Linked DNA regions of Homo sapiens. The protein of the gene in region 4 purifies or fractionates together with the protein of the main gene of each other region. This does not show direct contact. Each region holds a gene or a part of one and is shown on either strand. Other genes may lie near its edges.

Region 1 (4,273 bases), on a different chromosome or scaffold from region 4:
AATAAGCAGTGCAAGGTAAATCTTTCCACCCCTATTTTCTCAGTTAGTACTGTACCTCATTTTTCCTCTACTCTTTTTCAGTTTGTAGACTTGGTGGCTCCTGCCTCCTCCCCTCCCTGGCTCAGTGAGGACGACCCCCGCCACTGGCTCTACTTTCCAGCTGATCACAGCTATTTACCTGTCCCAGTCTTGAGTAAGGCACAAAATATTTACAGAAAACAGATGTCTTTCAGAGGACTTGCTGCTAAGTGTAATAGTGAAGATTACTTGCATTACTGCTACTTTCCAATCAATTAAAAAAAAGAAATAGAAAACTTTGTATTACAAAGAGATCACAACACGAACGCATTGTTTAAAGCCTCTCCTTTATCCACTTTTTTGCTTGTCTCCCTAAACCATCTGTGATGCTAGCTGAGACTCGAATTTACATAAGAGCCAGAAACCATCAACCCAACCTCTTCACACACTAACGTCTACATTCAATCTCTTTAAAAAAGACTTAAATTTTGGCTCATGTGGGAGGTGGTGGTAGTGGTGGAGACTTAATAAAAGGTGGTTTTGTCTTCCTGAAGTGGAAATATAGCGCCGTCAACATCTTTTCCCCATCTGCCTGTTTCCTCCTTCCCTTTCTGTTTAAGGAAAGTCTAACCACCGCACTTCTCCCCACCTCCCCGCACCTCCCCCCAGGCAAACGCAAGCAACTGAACCGCCTATGATGTCATAATCACAATCCCATTACCTCATCCTGCTGGGGGGGAGGGGGCGGAGAGAGAAGAGAGGGAGTGAACAGCCCTGGGCTATCCTGAGCTTTACAAAGTGTTCTGGGTGAGGGCAAATTACAGAACCAAGTGGAAACGTCCCCGCAACCATTATAAGTCCTGGGTTTTTAAGGTTCAGGCCGATCCGGCAGCTGCAAGAGGGGCTCCTGGGACTCCGAGCAGGCCCTAATCCGCGCTTGGACCACACTTCCCAGCAGCCTTCACGCCGCGGACGGGTCCTTTGCTGGGGGAAGGGGGATTCCTTCGAAGAGGTGGTCGTGGAGGGCGGGGCAGCAGAGCAGGTGAGGGGCACTGTGGCTAATTGCGTGACGCGGCCCGAACCGAGTGGGAGGCTGCAGTTGGGCCGTTGGAGGGAGGGAGGGCAGGGGCGATGCCTTTGTTTACCTTCTTCCGACATGGCCTCCCCCGCGGGTTTCAAGATGTGCCTCCAACTGGGGCCGTCCACTTTCTGCGATATTTTGGAGGGGGTGACTCGTTAGTGAGGAAACCACCCCCATCCCTAAATCAAAGCGCCAGGCTCGTTCCCAACAGCGCTGTCCGAGAGACACTTTGAGAGAGACACGACACGGAGCTGCGCCCTCCATGGGTGGCTTGGGGGGATTCTGCGAGCCGGAGCTGTCCCCCTACTCTCCTCAGGGACTCGTTGGTTCGCGCCAGCGCCTTTTAAGGGCACCGTGGGGCGAACCGAGCGCTCAGAGCTGCTCCGGCCGCGGCCCTGGGAGCTGGAGGAACCGCGGTAGGTGGTGGAGGGCAGGTGGCGCTGGGGCCTCGGGGCGGGCACCTCAACCGTCCCTCCCTCCTTCCCTCTTTCCCCTCCCCCAGCCCGACCGCCCGCGCGGCCGGGCCTCGCTGGCCGCCTCTGCGGGGAGAGCACGGGACCCGGTGGGGGAGGGGGTGGCGGAGTGCTAAGTCCCAGACCCTCCCCATCCCCTGCGTCCTGAGTTCGCTTCCCGCGGCCAGATGATGGAACCTAGTGGGAAGAGGCGAACGACAGCCCCCCTGAGCGAGCCCTGGCGCACCCCCCCCCCCGCCCCGGGGACCAGCGGACGCCCCATGCCCCACCCCGCGGGGACAGGCAGGGCAACAGAGGGAGAGGTTGAAGATTGGAGGGGCCTAGCCTTTTGCTTCTTCATGGGGGTGGGGGGAGGGGTGTTCCCCACTTGTCACCCCTTTCCCCACCAGAACCATATGGAAGAAGAGCAGGCAGATCTCCACCTACCTGTTCATGCAGCTCCCTGCCTTCCTCATGTTTTTCTTCAGTCTCCCCAGGAGGTGTGGGGCTGGGACCTGAGGGGAAGGTCCCCAAAGGGTTTGTGACTCTCCTCCCTGTTGGCCTGACCTGATCCTACCTTGTCTTGGTACAGCACAACCTCAGCATCCCTGAAACAGGAGTGTCAGGGGTTACTGCCATCCAATAGGAGATGGGGTGGGGGTCTGATCTTTATTTTTGGGGGCTGCTGGTGGAGGGAAAGCCTGGACTGAGAGTTAGGTCTGGTGGGGTTGCTGAGAGGGCCTAGCGGCCTGCTGCTCTGTGAAGGGCTGAGCCCCGTGCCAGTTGTTAAACTGAGAAGTTTTAACTTGTTTAGTGAATATTCAGGGCTGTCTCTACCCTTCAGATACACAAAATGGAAGGGGAAGGAAGGCGGCAAGAGAGGGCTTCTTACACTTTTTTCAATGCCTGCTTGAGAAAGAGGAGGCCCCTCGCGGAGCTGGTTTGCCTTCTTTTGTGTCCTGGTTTGATTCCTTATGGCTTCCGTTCTGTTCCCCCTCGCAGCCTGGCCTGTTTTAGGAAACTCAGGCTGAGAGTATCAGTTGCGTGGTGGTAGTTGCATTGTTCCAATTACCACTGTGTGTGGCCACATCCCAACAATTAAAATGCAGAAAAACACAAATTCACTGTCTTGACTTGATCCTAGAGGTGGCTGGGAGTTTGCTGTTTGTCCAAATGCCTCATGAAAAGCTGGAGAGTTTGCTTCATTCCCTGCTCCTCATAGCTGGTTAGCCTGAGGCCTGGGGTCTCTAGGGTAAAATCCTGCACTTAGGTTCCCTCTCTGGTTGATCTTTGAGGGCAGCAGAGTTAAGAAACCAAGAGCAGAAGTGATATAAGCTTTAGCTTCTCCCGTAAGAATATAGGGGAAGCAGCTGAAGAGAGCTCCCCGGAAGCTAGAATTTTGTTCAGGGTGGTAATAATTATGCATGAAAATGATAGTTAACTGTAATGATGATTGACTTCTCTTGCACCTTTCTTCCAGAGAACTCCAGGTACATCCAGGTTTATCTCTTTGCTCTTCCTTGTGCCCTCCTTCTAAGGTGTGAGTGGGGTAGAGATAATTCCTCTTTTTTGTAGAGTGATCTGCCCCCAAGGTCACAGAAGGAAGAGCCCTCTTGGGCTTTTCTTAGTGTGCAGGTGAGGGAGGATGGTATTCAGCCAGAGAGATGGACCCTATTGCCTTCTTCATCTTATTGATTTCATTACTTCTGACATTCTGAGGCCTTGAAGATTCACAAACGGGAACGAGAAATGGTAGTCTGTGTGGACTCCTGATTTTTATAGGTCAGATGGTACATTTTGTACATTTTAATATGTTATATTGTTCCTGTGACAGGTTAAGATTATTCTGCCCACTTTACATATGGGTAAACTGAGGCCAAGGAGTATTAAATGATTTGTCAAAACTCTTAGCAAATTGGATTAATAATTAGATTTCTTGATGATTTGTTCTCTTGACTAGCTAATGCTACACACATTCTCTGGTAAGCTGTCAGCTTGCTGCTCATTTCCGGGAATAGATAGAACAAAATCAAGACACTGGCTTAACCTCCCCTTTTCCCTTGAGCAAGGCCCCTCAGGTAATTGTGTGGGCTTGAAGCCTGTTATCTGATACAGTTAGTTTGCTTCTATCAGAAGTTGACCACGAGAAAGAATCTTGGTTAACTGTATCCATGGACTTTGCATCAGATGAGGCTAAAAACTTAGTTGAACAGTCATGGAGTTGTTGTTTACGACGTCTGTAGAGTTGAAATGTATTGGAATTACCCTGACCATTTCTTTATCTTCCCATTTGATAAGAAAACAAACACTGTATCTATTGGAAAACAATAATATATCAGATGTTTAGGCTGTGGGAGGACATAAAATCCTATGTACTCAGGTCTAAAGCAGAAAGTCTTGCCTACAACCACTGTTCTTCCTTGTTCTCTTATTACTATTTCTGTAGTTTAGGAGAAGGGTACCTCTTTTCACTTCTGACTGGAAGATAAAATACTGGGCTGATCTTGATGGAAATAATCATTTGGGCATCCCTCTCTCTCACTTGAGCAGCTGTTTTCTAAGTGGTGCTGGTATTCCAGTTAGAAACAACAGAGCATGAACCAGTTTAAGGGTAGCAAATAAGTTTCAACTTGATTGCCAACTCTATTTTATTTCATATCTGGACTGCCAAGTTCATAATTTCTGAAGCTGTGTTTAGGCTTAGCTGGAAAGAGCTGTGATC
Region 2 (3,500 bases), about 230 Mb from region 4:
ATGCCAGCACTGGGCATTATTTACCGGGGTGAGATGAGATGGGTAATTTAGTGGGCAGTAAGTTTTTTCCCACTCAGGGTTGAGGTTGAATGTTTCCCCATTTCTGTCACTAAATAAATTTTCCTTTTTCATTTAGTCTTGCAACAAATATTGATTGAGTTCTTACATGGGAACGAACTCGTGTATTATGTTTGTATTTGTGTGTGTGTGACTTTTGTTCATGTTCTTTGCACATTTATTTATTGGCATCTTAATGTTTTCCTTGCTACTTTGTATAAGTTCGTTATGAATATTTTCTTATTGTGCTCTAGTATTTTTTTCTAATAAAACTTCCTAATACAGAGGATTTTTTTTTTTTCTTTGAGGCGGAGTCTCACTCTGTCCCCCAGGCTGGAGGGCAGTGGCGTGATCTCAGCTCACTGCAACCTCTGCCGCCTGGGTTCAAGCGATTCTCCTGCCTCGGCCTCCTGAGTAGCTGGGATGACAGGCGCCTGCCACCGCGCCCAGCTAATTTTTTTTGTATTTTTAGTAGAGACGGAGTTTCACCATCTTGGCCAGGCTGGTGTTGAACTCCTGATGTCGTGATCTGCCCGCCTCGGCCTCCCAAAATGCTGGGATTACAGTCGTGAGCCACCATGCCCGCCCTACAAAGGTTTTTTAAAATTAGATTCATGCTATGAGGAATTTGAATGCACTTTGGTGCAGCTAGCATTGTGTGTCCTTTTAAAGCAGTTAATATATCAAACAAATGAATTAAGTGTCAGTCCTGACTCACCCTTGTCAAAAAATACAGTGGTGACCGCGCACGGTGGCCACGCCTGCAATCCCAGCACTGTGGGAGGCCGAGGCACAATGGTGGCCGCGCGCAGTGGCCACGCCCGTAATCCCAGCACTGTGGGAGGCCGAGGCATAATGGTGGCCGTGCGCGGTGGCGACGCCTGCAATCCCAGCACTTTGGGAGGCCAAGGCGGGCGGATCATCTGAGGTTGAGAGTTTGAGACCAGCCTGACCAACATGGAGAAACCCCTCCATGTTGGAGAATTAAGAGGCAGGTCTCCACTAAAAATACAAAATTAGCTGGGCGTGGTGGCGCACACCTGTAGTCCCAGCTACTTGGGAAGCTGAGGCAGGAGAATTGCTTGAACCTGGGAGGCAGAGTTTGCGGTGAGCCGAGATCGCGCCACTGCACTCCAGCCTGGACAACATCAGCGAAGCTCCATCTCAAAAAAACAAAAAATACACTGGTTGTGGTATTGGAGATACTTGTTAAATATATATATATGTGTGTGTGTGTGTGTATATATATACACACACACACATACATAGGTGAAGATAATTGTTTAAAGTTGGTTTTAATATTTAATATTATTTTATAAATTAGTTTACTGCTTAGTCATCAAATTGATCTTCGCAAATAAATATGAACAGAGCTTCTAGGCTGGGTGCAGTGGCTCATGCCTGTAATCCCAATGCTTTGGGAGGTCAACACAGGAGGGCCACCAGAGCCCAGGAGTTCAAGGTCAGCCCGTTCAAGGTAGCGAGACCCTGTCTCTACAAAAAATTTAAAAATTAGCTGGACATAGTGGCTCATGCCTGTAGTCTCAGCTACATGGGAGGATCCCTTAAGCCTGGGAGATTGAGGCTGCAGTAAGCTGTAATTGCACCACTGCACTCCAGCTTAGGTGACAGAGCAAGACCCTACCTCTCAGTCTCTCAATATCTCTATTTCTCTCTCTCTCTCACACACACACACACACACACACACACACACACACACACACACACACACACACAAAATAGAGCTTCTAGGTAATGTAGCAGTAATAATACATTTTTTTTAACATTTTGTGATTTTGATTTGTTTATTTTTTATTAATGTTTTTGTAGAGACGGGGTCTTGCTGTGTTGCCCAGGCTGGTCTCCAATTCCTGGCTTCAGGTGATTCCCCTGCTTCGGCCTCCCAAAGTGCTGGGATTACAAGTGTGAGCCACTGTGTCTGACCTTTATTAACTGTTTATTTTGAAATAATTGGCTGGGTGCGGTGGCTCACACCTGTAATCCCAGCACTTTGGGAGGCCGAGGCGGGCGGATCACCTGAGGTCAGGAGTTTGAGGACCAACCTGGTCAACATGGTGAAACCCCATCTCTACTTAAAATACAAAAATTAGCCGGGTGTGGCGGCGGGCACCTGTAATCCCAGCTACTCAGGAGGCTGAGGCAGGAGAATTGCTTGAACCCTGGAGGCAGATGTTGCAGTGAGCCAAGATTGCGCCATTGCACTCCAACATGGGGGACAAGAGCGAGACTTCGTCTGGGGAAAAAAAAAATAATCATAGACTAATTCATAGGAAGTTGTAAAAATAGTACAGAGAGACCCCTGTGCCCTTCACCAGCTCCCTCTGTGTTAACATCTTTTTTTTTTTTTTTTTGAGATGGAGTTTGGCTCTTGTTGCCCAGGCTGGAGTGCAATGGCGTGATCTCAGCTCACCGCAACCTCCCCCTCCCAGGTTCAAGTGATTCTCCTGCCTCAGCCTCCCGAGTGGCTGGGATTACAGGCATGCGCCACCACGCCGGGCTGATTTTTTGTATTTTTAGTAGAAACGCGGTTTCTGCATGTTGGTCAGGCTGGTCTCAAACTCCTGACCTCAGGTGATCCGCCCGCCTTGGCCTCCGAAAGTGCTGGGATTACAGGCATGAGCCACCATGCCCGGCCCTTGTGTTAACATCTTACACCTCCATACACCTCCATAGTACAATATCAAAACCAGGGAATTGAAATACTGCTAACTAAACTATAGACCTTATTCAGGTTTCACCAGTTTTACATGTGTGTATGGCTCTATGCAGTGTTACCTCTTAAATTAATTATATAACCACTAGCAAGACACAGAACTGGTCTTGAACTCCTGGACTCAAGCGATCCTCCCGCCTCGGCCTCCCAAAGTGCTGGGATTACAGGCACAAGCCACCACACCCAACTGTATTTTAATTTTCTTAACAGTGTTTTGGCTAGGCACAGTGGCTCATGCCTGTAATCCAAGCACATTATGATGCTGAGGCAGAGAGATTGCTTGAGCCCAGGAGTTCGAGGTCAGCCTGGGCAACATGGCAAAACCTCATCTCTACAAAAAAATACAAAAATTAGTCAGGCATGGTGGTGCATGCTTGTAGTCCCTGGTACTCAGGAGGCTGAGGTGGGAAGATTGTCTGAGCACAGTAGGTAGAGGCTACAGTGAACCATGATTACATCACTGTACTCCAGCCTGGGGACAGAGTAAGACCCTGCCTAAAACAGGAAAAAAAAAAAAAATTCAGGGTTCCATTAAGTATAAAAGATTTTAAACACCACTAAGACTTTTTCCAGCTGGGTGAGGTGGCTCACGCCTGTAATCCCAACACTTTGGAAGGCCAAGGTGGGAGGATCACTTGAGACCAGGAGTTTGAAACCAGCCTGTGCAACATAGGGAGACCCCATCTCCACCAAAAAAAAAAAAAAATTT
Region 3 (3,500 bases), on a different chromosome or scaffold from region 4:
TTGTACCATAGACCACAAGGGCAGAAAAACCAAATAGATGAGAAGGGAATCCCAATAGGGAAATTCCTGAGGCGAGATGTGAGGGAATGAGGACTTTGCTACTTGGCAAATTTGAATGAGGTGGGAGCCCACATCCATAGCCTTGTCTGACCTCCCTCAGGTGGGGCTGCCTGGGGCACAGACACACTTTCTACTGGGACATGCTCTGCTTGCTGCTGGGAGGAAGTGGTGGGTCTTGAAGACCATATTGGGGACCAGCTCTGACACTAACTGTGTGATCTTAAGCAAAATTACTCACCCATCTGAACCTGTTTTCTCTCTTCTGTACAATAAGCAATACTTGTCTTGTCCAACCTACAGAGTTGCTAGGAAAACAAAGTACGATCATGTATGTCAGTGCTCTATAAATTGGAAAACGTTCTAGAAATAATTATTATTCCTAAAGTGAGGGAGTTTATCTCAAGGGTCCATCCTTATCTCAGAATTGTTATTACTATAATAAACCTTTTTGCTGAAAACCTTCATTTACTGATATTTACAAATAAGTCCAGCAATGCATTCCTTTGATTTTTATTCCTGCACCTTGGTCTTTTTTAAAATTATTATTTTTTAAACTTTTTCTTTGAACTCTGTTTAGGTGGTGGGTTTTAGTTTAGCGTTTGTTGTTGGGATTGTTATTTTGTTTGGTTTTATTTTTGGCTTGGAGGAGGAAAGTCATTGATTTTACCAAGCTGCATAATTTGTCCGAGCCTGACCCTCCTAACTCTAACATCCCTTATTTTTCCAGATACGGCCTCAAGGTGGACATCTGGGCAGCAGGTGTAATCACTTATATCCTGCTGTGTGGTTTCCCTCCATTCCGTGGGTATGGGCAACAATCTTTTATTCAGCGCCGACAAAGCATTTCTCTACTCTCTGAGTGATCCATTAGCCCTTCTTGCACAAAGGAGCCTGCAGCAGGAAAAGAGCACAAGAACTTTACTTGCAATCCCTGTTATTTTTTCCCTGTTATGTCATGCATGCTAATTTATATGCCTTCCATATTTCTTCCCCATATCATTAAAAACTCATTCTTTCTTTTTTTTTTTTTCTTTCTGGTTTTGAGACAGAGTCTCTCTTTTGCTCAGTCTGGAGTGCAGTGGCACAGTCTCAGCTCACTGCAACCTCTGCCTCCCAAGTTCAAGCAGTTCTCCTGCCTCAGCTTCCTGAATAGCTGGGATCACAGGCGTGCGCCGCCACACCAGTTACTTTTTGTATTTTTAGTAGAGATGGGGGTTTCACCATGTTGGCCAAGCTGGTATTGAACTCCTGACTTCAAGTGATCTACCTGCCTCAGTCTCCTGAAATGCTGGGAATACAGGTGTGAGCCGCCGCACCCGGCCCAAAAACTCTTTCTTAATTTACCAAAACAGATCCACATTGACATTTTTCAATCGATTAAAAATACACATTTTTACACATTTATGGGGGGAAAGGAAGGGCTCCAGTGCCTAAGACTGAAAAGATGTACACTGAGTTGATATCTTAGTGCTGTTTTTCCTTGTTGTCGTTCACCTAAACAGAAGTGGTGATGACCAGGAGGTGCTTTTTGATCAGATTTTGATGGGGCAGGTGGACTTTCCTTCTCCATACTGGGATAATGTTTCCGATTCTGCAAAGGTAGGTGTCCAGTGCCTTCCTCTTCCCTATATTCTGTGTGTCTTAACGGAATTATTTTTCCAAATCATTGTGTGCAAAGAAACTAATGACATCATAAGTATGATTTCTGTACACATTTTAGTTGTAATTGCTAGGTTTTCCAAGATTTCACAGTCATCAAGTCATCTGTTCCCAGACATCCCAACAAGTACTTATCAAGTGTCTCCATCTGCTGCCTTCATCTCTCTCAGGTGCCATTCCAGTGACATTGCTATAGCCTCTTGCTGTGCCCCACCCTCGCCAGGCTTGAGCCCAGCTCAGATTTCTATATGGCCTGTGGTTTCACCTCTCTCAGCTCTTGACTTAATGACTTAATTTCCCAGTGAAGCCTTCCCAGACCATCCTGGTTCCAATTGCATCTCTTAAACCTTACCTGGCTTGCTGTATCCTACTTGTCTGTTTTATTTTTCTCCAGAACACTTAACACCTGTGTGTCCATCTGGTGTGCTATCTAACTACCTATCTCTCTACCCAAAAAAAGATAGATATAAATAAGTAGGCATGTCTTCTTTATATAGTTCATTTCCAGACTCTCTCCACTAGAATGCAAATTCTGCGAAGGCAGGGATTTTTATCTATTTTGTCCATTGCTGTACTATCCCTGCCTAAAGTATGACCAGCATACTGGTGCTCAATGTATACTGAATAAATGAACAAGTATATGAATGAATCCATCAATTAATCAGAAGGAAGAAAACTCAACCTCAACGTAGGTTGAAATCATCAAGAAAGACTTTATGGGGAAGCTATGATTTAAGTTGAACCTTGAATAATAGCCAGGATTTAGAGGCAGAGGGGGAGGAAAACACAAGGTTCATTGTTTTTATCCCATGAAACTAAAAGATCAGTCCTTAACATGGATGAAGGTGATGGTTGCACAACAATGTGAATGCACTGAATGTCAGTGAACTGTGCACTTGAAAATGGTTGAAGTGGTAAATTTTATGTATATTTTACCACATTAAATAATATTTATGATAAATCAACTTCTAAGAAGGCTATAAAAATCTTACATTGAGATGTTTGTAGACCTTGAGGAGAAAAAGGAAAACCTTTTCATTGCTCTTTTTAAAATTTATGTCTCCGAGTGCTGACTTAAATGTTTAAAAATTTGAGAAAAATGTTCTCAATAATTATCTTGAGAAATAATTATCTTTTGATTGCTCAATGTTTATGCCTTTGCTTTTGTCATGTCCTGAATGTGAGTTCCCTTTAAAAGCCAACCCCTCAGACATGACCACTTTGTGTAGAAAATGATGCATATTGAGTGCAAGTCTCTCATTTTCTTCAACTGTCCAGGAAGCTGCCAGAAAGGGAGTGTCAGAGAAAGGCGCAGGCTAAAGGAGATGGGACGATACAGCTGCAGGGCCGGGGGCTCTTCAGGAACCTGTCCAGCTCCCCATGCCATCACTGCAGGATCTGAGGGCTCACAGTTACTGACAAATAGGACCATCTCCTACACCTCCATAGCACCTGCAAAGGGCATCACACACAGCAGATACTTTCACGAGTTCTGATCCAAGTTAGAAACTGAATGAAGAAGGCTGAGTGAACTCTCTCCCTCAATGAAATTAAATCACCCCCTTCCCGAGTGGTACTATAAAGCCTGTGTATGTAAGGAACTGGATAATGCATATCTAACCATTTTGTGACATGGGAACTTCTAATCCAGAGTGGACAATTGTATAGCATACTCATCGTTAAGACCCAGGTAGAGCATTCCTGGTCCAAGTCCATTTGAGCTCATGAGGAAGTTCCATTAATTTCAGGATGATGAAATTGTTTACCTCTCAATAGTTCTA
Region 4 (3,500 bases):
ACTCCTGGAGTCAAGCCATCATCTTTCCTCCTCAGCCTCCCAAAGTGCTGGGATTACATGTAAGAGACACCACCTCTGGCTCTATCTAGCATTGCCTTTAAAGTCAGTCAGATCTGGATTTGAATATCAGTGTCCTCATTTACTAGCTGTGTGACCTTGAGCAAGTTATATAACTTCATTGAGACTGATTGTCTTGATTTCTGATACTGTATTCGTTTCTTGGGAGATCTGTCAGAAGTCCTGTAGGGAAAATCTGTTTAATGTTTCTTAACCCATTAAAGCCAATTAGGTAAATACTGGCATAAAAACATATGGCTTTTTCAGGGAACAATGAGTAGTTAGGTGTAACTAGAATGAAAAGTGGAGAAAGGGTTTTTTTGGGGGGGAAGGAAACAGGCATTTCGCATGTGGTCAGGCAGTGAGTGCCATGGATGCCATACTAAGATGTGTGGACTATTTAAGAGGCAAGGGAGAGCCATTGATGGTTATTGAGGAGTAGTGTAGTATGATCTGCTGCAAGAAAACACATCTACAGAGAGAGAAACATAAGCTTGCGGTCATTGCTTTATGACTGTACTATCATAGATTGTCAGAATGGCAATAATAAAAACTAAAATAACTTACTTAGACATTGGTTTGACCACATTGTTTATCATTTACAATTCAAGCCTAGTTTTTAGCATCACAATTTGTTTACTGAATTAATTTAGACTACATTTTCTCTCTGATTTCTTTCTTTCTTTTTTTTTTTTATTATACTTTAAGTTCTAGGGTACATGTGCACAATGTGCAGGTTTGTTACATTTCTAACTACTTCCAAAATTGGAAAATATTCTCTAGCTTTACCGTGTCAGGCTGATGATCTTAACTCCAAATGTTAATGACTGTCCCCAAACTCTCTGAGGCTCCCCAAACCCTCTGAGGCAATCCAGGGCTCCCGAAAAATAGAAGCACCCCAATGAAGGAATTTTAATGGGCAGAGGGTTTTGTGGGGGACCTGGGAGAGCTGTGATGGCTTTATTTTGGAGCCTGAAACTTAAATTTGTACAGTTGACCCCTTGGCAGTGTGAATTTAGTTTTTAAAATTCATCTTCTCCAAATATTGCTTCACGTTGAGTGCTTTTAACTAAATAATAGTATTAATAATTGCAAAACCACGATTACTTGTACACCAACCTAATAGTAACAAGATGAGTTTTTAACATTTATTTAGGGCATATTAGATGCCGAGCACTACTCACAATTTATCCTCATTTATTTGTCACTACAACCTTTTGAGGTGGCGCTCTAATTATCCCCAATTTACAGGTAAAAAAAAAACTGAACTCAATGATTAACTGACTTGATCAAAGTCATTCAACCCATCAGAGGGGAGTGCTAAGAATTAAATCTGGGACCTCTGATCCTGGAACTTGTGTTTTATTGTCTCCGTATATTGCCTGGATTAACAGTTCTCAAATATTTGCTTTCAGGACTCCCAAAGAGCTTTGGTTTATAGCAATTAATATTTATCATATTAGAAATTTAAAATGATACATTTTAAAAATGTTTAATAATATGAATATAACAATAGACCCCATTACATCTTAACGTAGCATTTGTAATGGGAAAACCCCCATATTTTCCCAAACAAATTTAATGAGGATGGTGGCATTTATTTGCACTTGTAGAGTTCACTTTAATGCCAGACTTTGGGAGAAGACAGATGGATGTTCATATCTGCTTCTGCATTCACACTGTCACCATCTTAGGGAACCCCAGGGATCCCTAGACTATACTTTGAGAACCTCTAGGCTAAATGATTAGTTCTGTTGATCCAGAATGACACTCTTTAGCAGTAGTTCCCACACCTATTGTGGCGTCAGAATCTCTCTGAGAACTTTTTAAAAATAACATGTTCTGCCTCATTTTTGGATATTCTGCTTCAGTGAACCTTAGGAATAAGCGATGCATTTTTTCCCTAATATTTTATTTGGAAAATCTTGGAATATATAGAACTGACATAGTTTTAAGTGAAAATTAAAATTTTACTTAAGGCTGCGTATGGTGGCTCACACCTGTAATTCCAGTACTTTGGGAGGCTGAGGTGGGTGGATCACTTGAGGTCAGGAGTTCAAGATCAGCCTGGCCAACATGGTGAAACCCTGTCTCTACTAAAAATACAGAAATTAGCCGGACGTGGTGGTGGGTGCCTGTAATCTCAGCTACTTGGGAGGCTGAGGCAGGAGAATTGCTTGAATCAAGGAGGTGGAGGTTGTAGTGAGCTGAAATTGTGCCACTGCACTCCAGCCTGGGTAACAGAGCCAGATGCCGTCAAATAAATAAATAAATAAATAAAATAAAATAAAATAAAAAAATCCCTTAAAATTATTCACTTACAAAAATTATTTCACTTATAATCCCACTGCCTAGATTCTACCATTAACATTTCACTAATGTGCTTTAACATAGATTTAACCCATATGCATTCATTAGTCTATCTTACTTTATGAGGAAACAATAATTTTTCTTTGAAGATTCCAGATGATTCAGCAAATATAGATATACAGCAAAGTTTGAAAGCTACAGTTCTGAGGACCAGATTTATGGATTCCTTCTTATATGTTATCTGGGTTGATATAGAAATTCTTCCATGGCTACAGACTATATCCAAATCAAGTAACTGTCTGCTGATAAATGTATGGTAAGTCATAGCAGGAGCCAGGTGACAGTATGCCTGATGTATTCTGGCGTATGACTCTGGGAAAAGGAACATCTCAGAGCGTTTGTTCCTTTCACATTGGAGGACAAATGGTGTTATTTGTGGTAGTAGGTTTGAGCTCTGTCTGACTCCACTAGCTTTTTGAATAGGGTGACGTGAGGATTAAGTGAGACAGTGTATGTCTGGGGTCGGCAAATTTCTCCTGTATAGGGCCGGATAGTAAATCTTTTTGGTTTTGCAGCCCATATGGTCTCTGTTTGCAACTATGTAATTCTGCTGTTGTAGCCAAAAAAAATCCTTGACAATATGTAAACAAATGAATGTGGCAGTGTTCCAATAAAACTTTATTTACAAAAGTGGCATTGTGCTGGATTTAGCCTGTGGGCTCTAGTTTGCCAATTCCTCATATATGTCAAAGAATTTAGTAAACTGTAAGACAAAATTTAAATGCAAGCTGTTGACTATATTCATTTTAATATTTTACTTAGAAACACTTCTAAGTGTTTTACATTTAAAATATTTGTGCTTTAAATATTTCCTAATGTTGTGTGTGTGTGAACTCATTGATACCTAAACATTTTCTACAACTCTTTACAGCCTAATAACGTTACTATTTTTATTCTTTCTGCAAAATCAGGTGTCACTTAATCAGGTATTTGTTCATCTTGGTTGGAGGTGAGGGTCTTTTTAATTTGGCTAACTTGGGTGATTCCAGGCAGCCTGCAGTATGAGGAAACAGTTCTGAGCCTTGTTCCCTGCAGGTGTGCTGAGATCTGTACACTTTGGCAGGCCTGCTGGT
Region 5 (4,209 bases), about 190 Mb from region 4:
ATTTTTCTATTTTTAGTAGAGACGAGGTTTCACCATGTTTGCCAGGATGGTCTCGATCTTCTGACTTCGTGATCCCCCTGCCTCGGCCTCCCAAAGTGGTGGGATTACAGGCGTGATCCACTGCTCCCGGCCCTGGCCATATTTCTTAAACTTTATGGCCACCAGGAATGCATACCACTTATACTCTTCCAGGAGGATGAAAGTCTTAAGATGTCTGAAAAGGGGTCTCTAACCCCTGGGAGTGCTAATACAGTAAGGCCCATACTGCTTGCTCTTGCCCTCCTCCTGTTCTAGTCTCTTCAGTCATGAGATTATGAGCTCCTGATGTCCAGGCACATGCAAAAAGTGAAGAAATATGTGCCTTGAACAGCTGGGCAGAATTCTTAGCTGGGAGCGGTGGCTCACGCCTGTAATCCCGGCACTTTCGTAGGCCAACGTGGGCCGATCACTTGAGTCCAGGAGTTACAGACCAGCCTGGGCAACATGGTAAACCCCGTCTCTACAAAATATACAAAAAATTAGTCAGGCATGCTGGCGTGTGCCTGTAGTCCCAGCTATCCGGGGAGGCTGAGTTGGGAGGATCATCTTAATCCAGGAGTTTGAGGCTGCAAGTGAGCCATGATCGCTCCATTGCACTCCATCATCCTGGGCGACAGAGTGAGACCCTTCTAAAAAAAAAACAACCAACAAAAACAACAAAAAATCCCAACTTATTCCCCACCAGCTTTCTTTCAAAATCTGTTTTCAAGCTAGCTGAAGTGTTACCTCCTCTAAGCTTTCACTTAACCGAATCTCATAGTCATGATTAATTGCTTCCCTAGCATTTTGTTTAGCTCTACTGATTGCTCTTACTATTTCAAGTCGGTATTATTGATATATTTTTTCCTCCTCACTATACTGAAATCCTGCAGGACGCAGCATTCTTACCGCTTTTCCTTACTCAGCTATACCTTGACCAACCCGAAAGCCGCGCCAGTCTAGTCCATTTTCTATTGGCTTTATCAATTACCAATCATTTCTGTGTTTAACATTTTTATTGGTCCATCTTGTGTTTACTGCCCCGCCCTCTAAGAGGCTCCTGGACTTGGGTTTCCCCCAGGTGTATTCCCTCCTCCTCGGTTCCGCCTTTCCCACACACTGCTTCTTCTGTTTTTACCTCGACTTCCTTCCTATTGGTTCCCTTCGTCCTCCGGAGTTGGCACCTACGGCTGTTGATTGGCTTTTCTGGACGCCCATTGTGCCCACCCTCATACCACGTGGCATTCCTAGCGCTAATTGGGCAATTCCACTACCTCGTTTATCAGGAGTTGACGGTTGACTGGCTACTCTGAGGGAGGGCTTGAGGGAGGGGCGTGGCCAGCCGAGACCCCGCCCCCAACCCCCCTGCTGGGCCGGGTAGGCGTTTCAGTCTTTCGCGGCCCGGGAGCTCAGCAGAGCTACCAGCTGCCCTGTTGGCTTCGCTGGTCGGATCGTCCTCCTGGCCCCGCCAAACAGGCGGGGGGAGCGGCCCCGACTGTGGGGCCATGGCAGTAGTCTCCTCGTTCGCCGCCGCCGCTAGCCTAGCTGAGTCGCCGGCTTCTGCGCTAGGGGCTCCCACCGCCTCCGCAGGCTAAGGAGCCGCTGCCACCAACGAGCTGTGAGGGTTACTATGCTCCCTCTTTGCCGCCGTCTCCTCCTCTTGCCCGCGCAGGCACCCCTCTGGCTGCTCAGTCCTGCCTCAGGTAACGTGAAAAGAGGACGGGGGTCACAAACCCGGGCATCCTGCCTGGCCCGCGCGCGCTGCCGCTCCACCTCCTCTGCCCCGGAGCAGAGGCGCCTGCGTCCCTCCGCACCCGACGGGACCCCTCGGCTTCCCAGAGGTCCCCCTCTCAGCGGCGGCGGACGCTCCCTTCCTGGCCGCTTTCCCCTTTCCTTCTCACTTCCCTCAGGCTCCCCGCCACGTCTGCTCCCCCTTAGAACCTGGGAACCCATTAGAAGTTACCTCGCTCGCATTAGGGATCTTTCGTTTTCTCGGAAAACTCTTGTTTCAGAGACTTCCAGCTCCCCACTGAGCGCCTCCCTGCTCGCATACCCGCTCCTGCCTCAGAGATCTGGGTTCCTTCACTTGACTTCCCTCCGATACACTCTTCCCTCGAAAACGTTCACCTCTACCCAGGAAAACAATTCCCTCCCCTCAGACCCTACTGCCTTCCCCCTCTTCTTTCCTCGCTTGTCATCGTCTCCCTTCCTTTCCCCTCTCTGCTTTTTACTCTTCGCTGTGAAGAGTGGACTAAGCCAGTGTTCAGATTTCGCTACAAGCGAAATCCAGGTTTGCGTAATTTAAAAGTCTTTAAATTGTATACCTCTGAGAAGAACTTGCTGAGGAATTTGGACTTCATGCTGCATGCATGGGGAGCCGTTGAAGGTTTTGTAAGCAGGAGCTTGGTATGATTGCATTATCTTTGGTGAAAATATAGAGGAAGGATTGAAAGTGAAGACCGTGGAGGCGGAAAGGCCAGGTAGGCAGAAAACGAGTGTGCTCATCCAGGCGGGAGGGAATGGCCCGAAATTCCAAGAGGTTTCAAAATAAAGTTGAGAAGAATAGTAGAAAGTTTCTGACTTGGCTGATGGTGTGAATCGGTAGTGTTAATTGAAATAGGGAACATAGTCTCTGGTTATACCACCCTCAACGCTCCTGATCTCATCTGAAATAGGGAGCATAAAAAAGCAATTTTGAGAGAAGGTAATAAATTTGGTTTTGAACAAGTTAAGTTTCAGGGTTTGTTTGTTAGTTTTTGTTTTTTTTGACGGAGTCTCATTCTGTCACCCAGGCTGGAGTGCAGTGGCACGATCTCAGCTCACTGCCACCTCCTCCTCCCAGGTACAAGCGATTCTCCTGCCTCAGACTACCGAGTAGCTGGGATTACAGGCATGCGCCACCACGTCCGGCTAATTTTTGTACTTTTAGTAGAGACGGGGTTTCCCCACGTTGGCCAGGCTGGTTTCGAACGTCTGACCTCAGTCAATCCGCCCACCTCGGCCTCCCACAGTGCTGGGATTACAGGCGTGAGCCACTGCTCCCAGCCGAGTTTGAGGTGTTTTGAAATATCACTGTGGGTATCTGGAAATTTGGGTCTGAAAATTGGGAGAAAGCTTGGACCTGGATACATAAATTTGGAGGGTCAAGAGAATATATGGGGGATATTTGTGTGCCTTAGTATGGAATGGTAATACTGAAAGATGAGAAGGGCTGTGGACCAGAAGGAGCATCATTGTTTGAAAGGTAATAGACACTGAAAAAGAGAGATTAAAGGAACGGGACAAGAACTAGAACATAACAGCATTATAATAGGAGCCAAAGAAAGGATTTCAAGAAGGGAGTGGGGGGCGGTGACTATCAATGTCACGTGCTTTCGAGGTCCAGCTGAATGAGAGTTAAGAAGCTTTTTTTTTTTTTTCTTTGGTGTCAGGGTCTCACTCTGTCGCCCAGGCTGGAGTGCAGTGGTGCAGTCTCGGATCCTCCCACCTCAGCCTTCTGAGTAGCTGGGATCACAGGCAGGAGCCACCACACCCAGATAATTTTTTGTATTTTTTGTAGAGACGGGATTTCTCTGCGTTGCCCAGGCTGGTCTCGAACTCCTGAGCTCAAAGCTATCTGCCTTCCCCGGCCTCCCAAAGAGCTGGGGTTACAGGGGTGAGCCATCATGCCTGGCCTGCCCTATATTTAGCAATCAGGAGGTCACTTGTTTCCTCTGAAATGCAGTTTTGGTAGGGTGGGGATGGCAAAGAAGGTAGTAGTGAGATCATGATGGATTGAGGAATAAATGAGGAGAAATGAGTAAAATTATTCTCCAGAGTTTGGTTGTGAAGGAGAGCTGGTTCTAGTGAAACTCATCTTTATTGAGAATATACTATATGCCAGGTACATAAAGATGCTTTATAGATCACAACAGCCTTGTGGTTAACATGTCAGTATCCCTCTTTTACAGTGGAGAGTACTGTGGACAAGGATTTGAGCAGGTATGTCTAGTTCTGAAACCTGTGTTCTTTCCATTATGGCACATGTGTGTTTTTCTTTTCAGTACAGGTGAAACAGTTCTGTAAGTGAGGGGAAGGTTCATCTAGGAAATATGTCAGTCAGGCATTTTGCCCTTTGACACCAAAAGGATAGTAGTGAAAATGGATAATGATGTGGTAGAAGGGAAGGAAAGTGAGGGAGTTTAACAGATG
Region 6 (3,500 bases), about 54 Mb from region 4:
TACAAAGAGAAAGGAGTATGCCATGAATCGTCAAGGATTTTATAATTATATTGGTCCTAAATTATGACAAACCTAATAAGAAATTTTGTGTTATTTTATGTTCTCTAATGGTAGGAAAAATTGTTTATTGACATAATGAATTTCAGCTACAAATAGGCAAGCAAAAATGTTTTATGCTATTTTGTTATTTTAGGTTGTCGTGTCAACTGTATTCCAATATATTGCAAAATAAACCTAACAGCAGTAATATTAGAATAAAGAATTAATATGTGGATATGTTCATCTACAATGCGATTGTCATTTTATGAGCATAGTTAATTAATTTATTTTTACATTGTGAAATGCAAACTAGAGAGGTAATTCTGATGTTTAAAAAATAGGATAACTTTTCATTTTAGGTAGCAGCGATGGTTCTGAACTAAGTGAAGAGACCTCATGGCCTGCTTTTGAAAGGTAAGATAAATTGTCCATTTGAACTACTTGGAGTTTATTTTGTCTGGGTTAAATAATATAATACAAATTTTCAGAGATAATATTTACTACATATCCCTAAGCGATTAAGTTTTCTACTGGTAAAAGAAATTAGAAGTTGATATTTAAGTTTGGATATGTAAGTAATGAGAATGAATGATAGTCTTATCTCTAAATGTTTATTTGGTGGCATGACACATGTATTTGAATTTTAATACATTTACATTTATAACTTAAAAATAATAACCGATCATCGACAAGTAACCTACTTACATATTCAAAAAATTATTTCCTTAAGTTCTGGTTCATTTAAGTAATTTTAAGGCATTTAGTGGAATGGTCAACTTTATTCTCTGCTGCTTTGTCAAGGACAAAATGATTTAATAAATTTTAAATTATACAAGTAAAGCAAGTTAAGGTTAGAATTTAAATGGTCATAAACTCAAAATTTTCAGAGTACACTTTTATACTGAAATACTCTAAGTTGTGCTCCCTTCTCCTTCCTTTGTTGCTTTAAGCTGTTAAATCTGTCATCTGCCTGTAGCAAATATCATACTATATTGAGGTCTAAGTACATATAAGATCTGAAGAATGTGACCAAACAATGCAAATAATTATTTATTAAATGTCCATTAGGATTCTTATGTTTTCACTGACCATTTCAGTTCTGCCATTTCAGACTCATAAGGTATTTGGCTTTTGACCAAAACAATTGCTCCCTTTTTTGTATATGAACTAAGTAACTAAATTTCTGAAAATGCCTATATTCATTACTCAAGCGGGTCATTTAGATTGAATGTTAAATGTCATATTAATACTGAAGTTGAAAATGTGTAATTGCATAACTCCTTATCAGTCACAATTTATAAAACAATTTTAAATTAAATTTTATTTGAAATCATAAATTTCATGCTGTTTAATTGGAAAAATAGATCCTTATTTTTTATGTGACTTCATAAAGATTTCTCACTATTATGTGATTAAGATTTTGTTTATAAGTTCTACATTGCAAAGTACTTTTGATCCTTTCTACTCTAATTATCAGTGTTCCCAACTTTTGTTCTCTTTGTTTTGCGGGATAATAATAAGTAAAAACAAATTATTTTTATTTATTTTTGCATTATTTTTCTTGCAACCTTTACTTCTGATCTGTTCATTTGGGTTTGCCTGAAATGTGAAAAACACAAGAATTGCCTTTGACATGTTGTCTGAATTTGTTCAAATTGTCTTTCCCTCTAGAAAGAACGTAAAACCATGAGAAGTTGATTATAGAGTGTACTGTAATCTTTATATTTAAAAAATATTGATTAACCAAATTGTTTTTTAGATTGCTTGACTTATGACTAACCAGAATGGTGGTGTGTTAAATAATCTGTTCTCATCCCAGCAGGTTACTTATGAAGACAGTATTTAATGATGTTACCTTCACGTCTCAAAACAATTTTTTTGCTTTATAACAGGTGTTTTGCTTTGCAGACATGTGTGGCTAAAAAAAGCTACTTTTCTTATGCCAAGTTTAAAATAGTGGGCTCTTAGAACATTTTGAGAACAGTGAAATGAATGCTGCCCAGCAAGATTCAGACATGAAATAATAGAAAGTGAATAAAGAACTAGGATATAAAGTACTACTCATGGATAGTGAACTTGAAAAATGTACTCTGAATGTTGACATACCATTTTCTGTTCTTATTTTCTAGACAGACATCAAATACATTGTCTTATTTTCTAGACAGAAATCAAATACATTGTTGTCTTTTTTTCTAGACAGACATCAAATACATTGTTTAAGTTGCTAAAATAATGCTTTTCCTTTAAAACATCATTTATCAACAGTGCTTTCGGGTTTTCCTAGGCAAAGAAGTATCAGTATTTTTATGTGTCTGTTTTTATTTTTTTTGTTTTTAACTATTATGTGCCATTTTGGATAAGTATTAACTCATCATTTTTATCATTTATTGGCTTTGTCAGTTAATGTAGAAATAATATAACGCCTATATTACTCAGTTCATTTCTTTTATTTACTATAAAGGATAAAGAGGAAAATAAAGTTTTCCTCATGAGTTTACAAGCCACATTGCTTTTAGGTGTCTTCATAGGGACATATAATAAAAATGAATTACTTATATAAATCCGGGCATCATATTTAAACTAGAATCCAAGAAGTGGTATAGAAACGTAAGAATTTTTGAAGTATTTTTGAGGTTTTTTTTTTATTATTTGGCTATAAATAGCTCTTTAATTCTTTTAGCAGATTTGTGAAAGTGAATGTATATGTAAATATATGGTGTGTACTAAATACCTCTAAGTATTTCTAGAGTCAATAGTAGAAGAAAAAATTTTTTGAAATCTATGCTGCATGCTTTAAAAAAGAAAGAGGAACAATCACATACTATCCTTTTGTAAGATTTAGAAAGCTATATTACAAGAAGAAACTATTATACTGTTCTAGGTATTGATAATGACTGTGTGAATAAAAGTATATGTAATATATACAATTTATAATGGAATCCAACAGGAACAGATTATACCATTCTCTCGGCCCGGTGACAAGAGTGGCACGAAATGGCTATCGAAGTCACATGAAGGCCAGCAGGTACAATTCCCCTGCATTCAGGGGTCACAGAACTCCCTTATGGTGTTGGTGATTGGCTTACATGGGTGTGGTCTGACGTTATTTCTTTTCTTTCTCAACTAATTGATTTAAAAACTAAACAAATTACCTAGAAAAACTTTCTTTCCAAGATCTAATATGAAGATAAATTTCAACTATTCTTTCTGATCCACAGAGCTAATTGCTAAAACTTGCATCTTAATGTTACATATTTTAAAATGCTTCCAAGTTGGTAGCCTTTAAACTGCACCAGTCTTTCTAATGCTGATAGTTTTTGAATGAACAATATAAAAATCTGCTTCTTTATTCATAAGTTGTAATCAAAGCATTTTCTTTGCTAATAAATTTATATTTGATTTGTCTTTTTAAAAAGTTTTTCAGATAAACTACAGGTCCTGAATGTAGACGAGTCTATTTC
Region 7 (3,500 bases), on a different chromosome or scaffold from region 4:
ATGGTTCCATCACCATGACTGCTTGAACTAAACGCCGTGAGTTGTCTGTCCTCAGACATATTCAAGCAGTCAGAGAGACCTTCGAGGGGTAGATTATTCTCCTCCCATCGTGACAGCTTGGTTTTCTGAGCGCAGAGCAGCTGAAGTCAGGCCTGGGGTAACGCCACACCCCCGCGACCCTTCCCCGCCTCTCCCGGGAGACCTTGCCCTCCCAGCTGGGTCATCCGGCAGCCCAGCAGCTTCCGGCCCCCTCCAATTGGCTGTAGGGGCCGATGGCGTCACTGGTTGCTATGGCGAACACCCAGATCACGACGTGGGCAGCCTGGAGCCCACCAAAGTAAAAATAGTCGTGTGTCCCCAACGTGGCCGCCCTGATGTGTGTGGAGGGAGGGTGTCCTGAGACCCAGTTTCCTGCCTCTCACTCCACTAAGAGACGTGGGCAGCCGGCTTTCCTCTGCACCTAAGTTTCCCTGCCAGTAAAACAGCCCCTGCCCGCGGTTCGTAGGAGGTGGCTCAGTAAATGCAAGGACATTTACCAGGTATTATGACAGCTTCCATGGTCCCTTGCTGAGCTCAACAATAGTACAACAGCACACAACAGCAGCAATAGTAATGGCTGATCATGATTAACCCAGAACCCTCCTCACGTCATCTCCAGTTACAGATGGGGAAACTGAGGCACGGGGCATACAAATAATTTGCATGGCCAGGAAGAAACAGAGAATTGAACTGGACCCAGGTCTGGGTGTCCCCAGATTCTAAACTTGTGCCACATGGCATTTTGAGAATTTAATAAACCCTCGTGATTGACCGGGTGCGATGGCTTACACTGTAATCCCAGCCCTTTGGGAGGCTAAGGTGGATGGATCACTTGAGGTCAGGAGTTCGAGACCAGCCTGGGCAACATAGTGAAACCTCGTCTCTGCTAAATATACAAAAATTAGCCAGGCATGCTGGCACACACCTGTAACCCCAGTTACTTGGGAGGCTGAGTCAGGAGAATCGCTTGAACCCGAGAGGCAGAGGTTTCAGTGAGCCAAGACTGCACCACTGCACTCCAGCCTGGCGATACAGTGAGACTCCATCTAAACAAACAAACAAACAAACAAAAAACTGGTTTTTTGGCCAGGCATGGTGGCTTATGCCTGTAATCCCAGCATTTTGTAATCCCGGCATTTTGGGAGGCCAAAGTGGGTGGATCATCTGAGGTCAGGAGTTCAAGACTAGCCTGGGTAACATGGCAAAACCCTGTCTCTTCTAAAAAAAAAAAAAAAAGTCCCAGCTACTCTGGAGGTTGAGGCAGGAGAATCGCTTGAACCTGGGAGACAGAGGTTGCAGCGAGCCGAGATTGTGTCATTGCACTCCAGCCTGGGCAACAAGAGCAAAAGTCTGTCTCAAAAAAACAAAAACAACAACAAAAAAAAACCCTCTTGGGCAGCCCATGTCTGAGGATGGACTGTGAGGTCACAGTGGAACACAAGCTCACGGCTTTCTATCCTTCATGCGGTGAGGGCACCCAGAGTTGGTGCAGGTCAGTTTGCTGAGCTCTAAAAGGGTCTTCAAAAGGGAGTCACCCGTCAGCCGTCCTCCCCACGCCCCCACTGGTACCCAGGGCCCAAACCTGCATAGGCTTTGCAGCGAGTGAGGAGAGAATGGCGTTCAGACCTAGACCCAGGAGGAGAGGGACATCTGAGATGGGACAGGGAGAGGACAACTCAGGAATCTCTGTTTTCTCAACAGATTATTAGTTTTTAGCCACTACTGACATACTTCTTCATAAATACAACTAATTGGTAATTTTAAATAAAATTATTATTAATTTTTTTTAGACTTAGAGTCTTGCTCTGTCACCCAGACTAGAGTGCAATGGTATTATCATAGTTCACTGCAACCTCCAACTCCTGGGGTCAAGCAATCCTCCCACCTCAGTCTCCTGAGTAGCTGGGATTGCAGGCGTGCAACACCACACCTGGCTAATTTTTTTTTCTTTTTTGAGACGGAATCTCTCATTGTTGCCAGGCTAGAGTGCAATGGCACCATCTCAGCTCACTGCAAGCTCTGCCTCCCAGGTTCAAGCGATCCTCCCGAGTAGCTGGGGCTACAGGTGTGCAATACCACGCCCAGCTAATTTTTGTATTTTTAGTAGAGACAGGGTTTCACCATGTTGGCCAGGATGGTCTTGATCTCTTGACCTTGTGATCTGCCCGCCTTGGCCTCCCAAAGTACTGGGATTACAGGCATGAGCCACCGCACTTGGCCCTTCTTATTTATTTATTTATTTATTTATTTATTTATTTATTTATTTATTTTTGAGATGGAGTTTCGCTCTTGTTTCCCAGGCTGGAGTGCAATGGTGTGACCTCGGCTCACTGCAACCTCCGCCTCCCGGGTTCAAGCGATTCTCCTGCCTTAGTCTCCCAAGTAGCTGGAATTACAGGCACCCACCACCATGCCTGGCTAATTTTGTATTTTTAGTAGAGATGGGGTTTCACCATGTTGGCCAGGCTGGTCTTGAACTCCCGACCTCAGGTGATCTGCCCACCTCAGCCTCCCAAAGCTCTGGGATTACAGGTATGAGCCACTGCGCCTGACCGGCCCGGCCTTTTTTTGGAGACAGGGCTCAAGCAATCCTCCCACCTCAGCCCCCCAAGTAGCTAGGAGTACAGGCTTGAGCCACCATGCCCAGCAATTTTTTTTTTTTTTTTTTTTTTTTTTTTTTGTAGAGACGGGGTTTCACTCTGTTGCCCAGGCTAGTTTCAAACTCCTGAACTCAAGTGATCCATCCGCCTTGGCCTCCCAAAGTGCCAGAATTACAGGTGTGAGCCACCGCACCCGGCCTACTCTGGCTAATTTTTTTAAAAAGTTTTGTAGAGATGTAGTCTTGCTATGTTGCCCAATCTGGCTTAAACTTCTGGGCTCAAACAACCCTCCTGCTTTGGTCTCCCAAAGTACTGAGATCACAGGTGTGAGCCACCGTGCCCAGCCTAAAATATTTTTTAATGCAGGTATGGTAGGAGCCGGGTGGGGAATTAGACTGTGAATCTGGAGGGCCTCCAGGAAGAAAGGATGTTGAGTTCAGATCTGGAGTATGAGCTGCAGTTAATTAGGGCCAGAAGGGAGGGAAGGCTGTTCTGAGAGAGCGCACAGATAGCGCAAAGGCCTTGAGGCAGGGCTGAGCCAGTGTGTAGAGTGAGCGGGAAAGATGCATTGGTTGGGGCATGGGATTGGGGATTGTGGGGGTGCATCAACGGCCAGGGGTTCTGAGGGCTAGTCTCTCTGAGAATGATCCCCATTTCTGTCTCATTGCAGAAGGAGCTGAGCCTGCCACGCCGAGGACGTGGGTGAGTTCACCTGGGACTGGCGGGCTGGGTGGGCCCCAGTGGTCTTGGAAGTGGATATTTCAGCAACAGCCACTGAATTGTGAATGTATTTAATAATTACAGCAACACATCTCATGTTCATTCTTGCCCTCGTGTTTGCAAAGTGCTTCACAAGCACCT

What was found.
Region 1: the proteins of MAP3K21 (region 4) and FAM53C purify together in Homo sapiens (affinity purification with mass spectrometry, with the first as the bait; one large-scale study listed by BioGRID). This does not show direct contact.
Region 2: the proteins of MAP3K21 (region 4) and NADK purify together in Homo sapiens (affinity purification with mass spectrometry, with the first as the bait; one large-scale study listed by BioGRID). This does not show direct contact.
Region 3: the proteins of MAP3K21 (region 4) and DCLK1 purify together in Homo sapiens (affinity purification with mass spectrometry, with the first as the bait; one large-scale study listed by BioGRID). This does not show direct contact.
Region 5: the proteins of MAP3K21 (region 4) and TESK2 purify together in Homo sapiens (affinity purification with mass spectrometry, with the first as the bait; one large-scale study listed by BioGRID). This does not show direct contact.
Region 6: the proteins of MAP3K21 (region 4) and RALGPS2 purify together in Homo sapiens (affinity purification with mass spectrometry, with the first as the bait; one large-scale study listed by BioGRID). This does not show direct contact.
Region 7: the proteins of MAP3K21 (region 4) and MAST3 purify together in Homo sapiens (affinity purification with mass spectrometry, with the first as the bait; one large-scale study listed by BioGRID). This does not show direct contact.

What each region holds. Positions count from the first base shown.
Region 1 is NC_000005.10:138,336,793-138,341,065, forward strand, and holds the start of FAM53C (protein FAM53C), read left to right. Parts: upstream 1-1,473; 5' UTR 1,474-1,515; exon of another isoform or gene 1,516-1,563; intron 1,564-4,273. Other genes in the region: CDC25C (M-phase inducer phosphatase 3), read right to left, coding at 1,164-1,363.
Region 2 is NC_000001.11:1,771,971-1,775,470, reverse strand, and holds part of NADK (NAD kinase), read left to right. Parts: intron 1-3,500.
Region 3 is NC_000013.11:35,806,383-35,809,882, reverse strand, and holds part of DCLK1 (serine/threonine-protein kinase DCLK1), read left to right. Parts: intron 1-787; coding exon 788-865; intron 866-1,562; coding exon 1,563-1,659; intron 1,660-3,500.
Region 4 is NC_000001.11:233,334,224-233,337,723, forward strand, and holds part of MAP3K21 (mitogen-activated protein kinase kinase kinase 21), read left to right. Parts: intron 1-3,500. UniProt on the Homo sapiens protein: Negative regulator of TLR4 signaling. Does not activate JNK1/MAPK8 pathway, p38/MAPK14, nor ERK2/MAPK1 pathways.
Region 5 is NC_000001.11:45,488,364-45,492,572, reverse strand, and holds the start of TESK2 (dual specificity testis-specific protein kinase 2), read left to right. Parts: upstream 1-1,409; 5' UTR 1,410-1,721; intron 1,722-4,209. UniProt on the Homo sapiens protein: Dual specificity protein kinase activity catalyzing autophosphorylation and phosphorylation of exogenous substrates on both serine/threonine and tyrosine residues. Phosphorylates cofilin at 'Ser-3'. May play an important role in spermatogenesis.
Region 6 is NC_000001.11:178,889,244-178,892,743, forward strand, and holds part of RALGPS2 (ras-specific guanine nucleotide-releasing factor RalGPS2), read left to right. Parts: intron 1-398; coding exon 399-453; intron 454-2,986; coding exon 2,987-3,064; intron 3,065-3,500. UniProt on the Homo sapiens protein: Guanine nucleotide exchange factor for the small GTPase RALA. May be involved in cytoskeletal organization. May also be involved in the stimulation of transcription in a Ras-independent fashion.
Region 7 is NC_000019.10:18,104,278-18,107,777, forward strand, and holds part of MAST3 (microtubule-associated serine/threonine-protein kinase 3), read left to right. Parts: intron 1-3,309; coding exon 3,310-3,341; intron 3,342-3,500.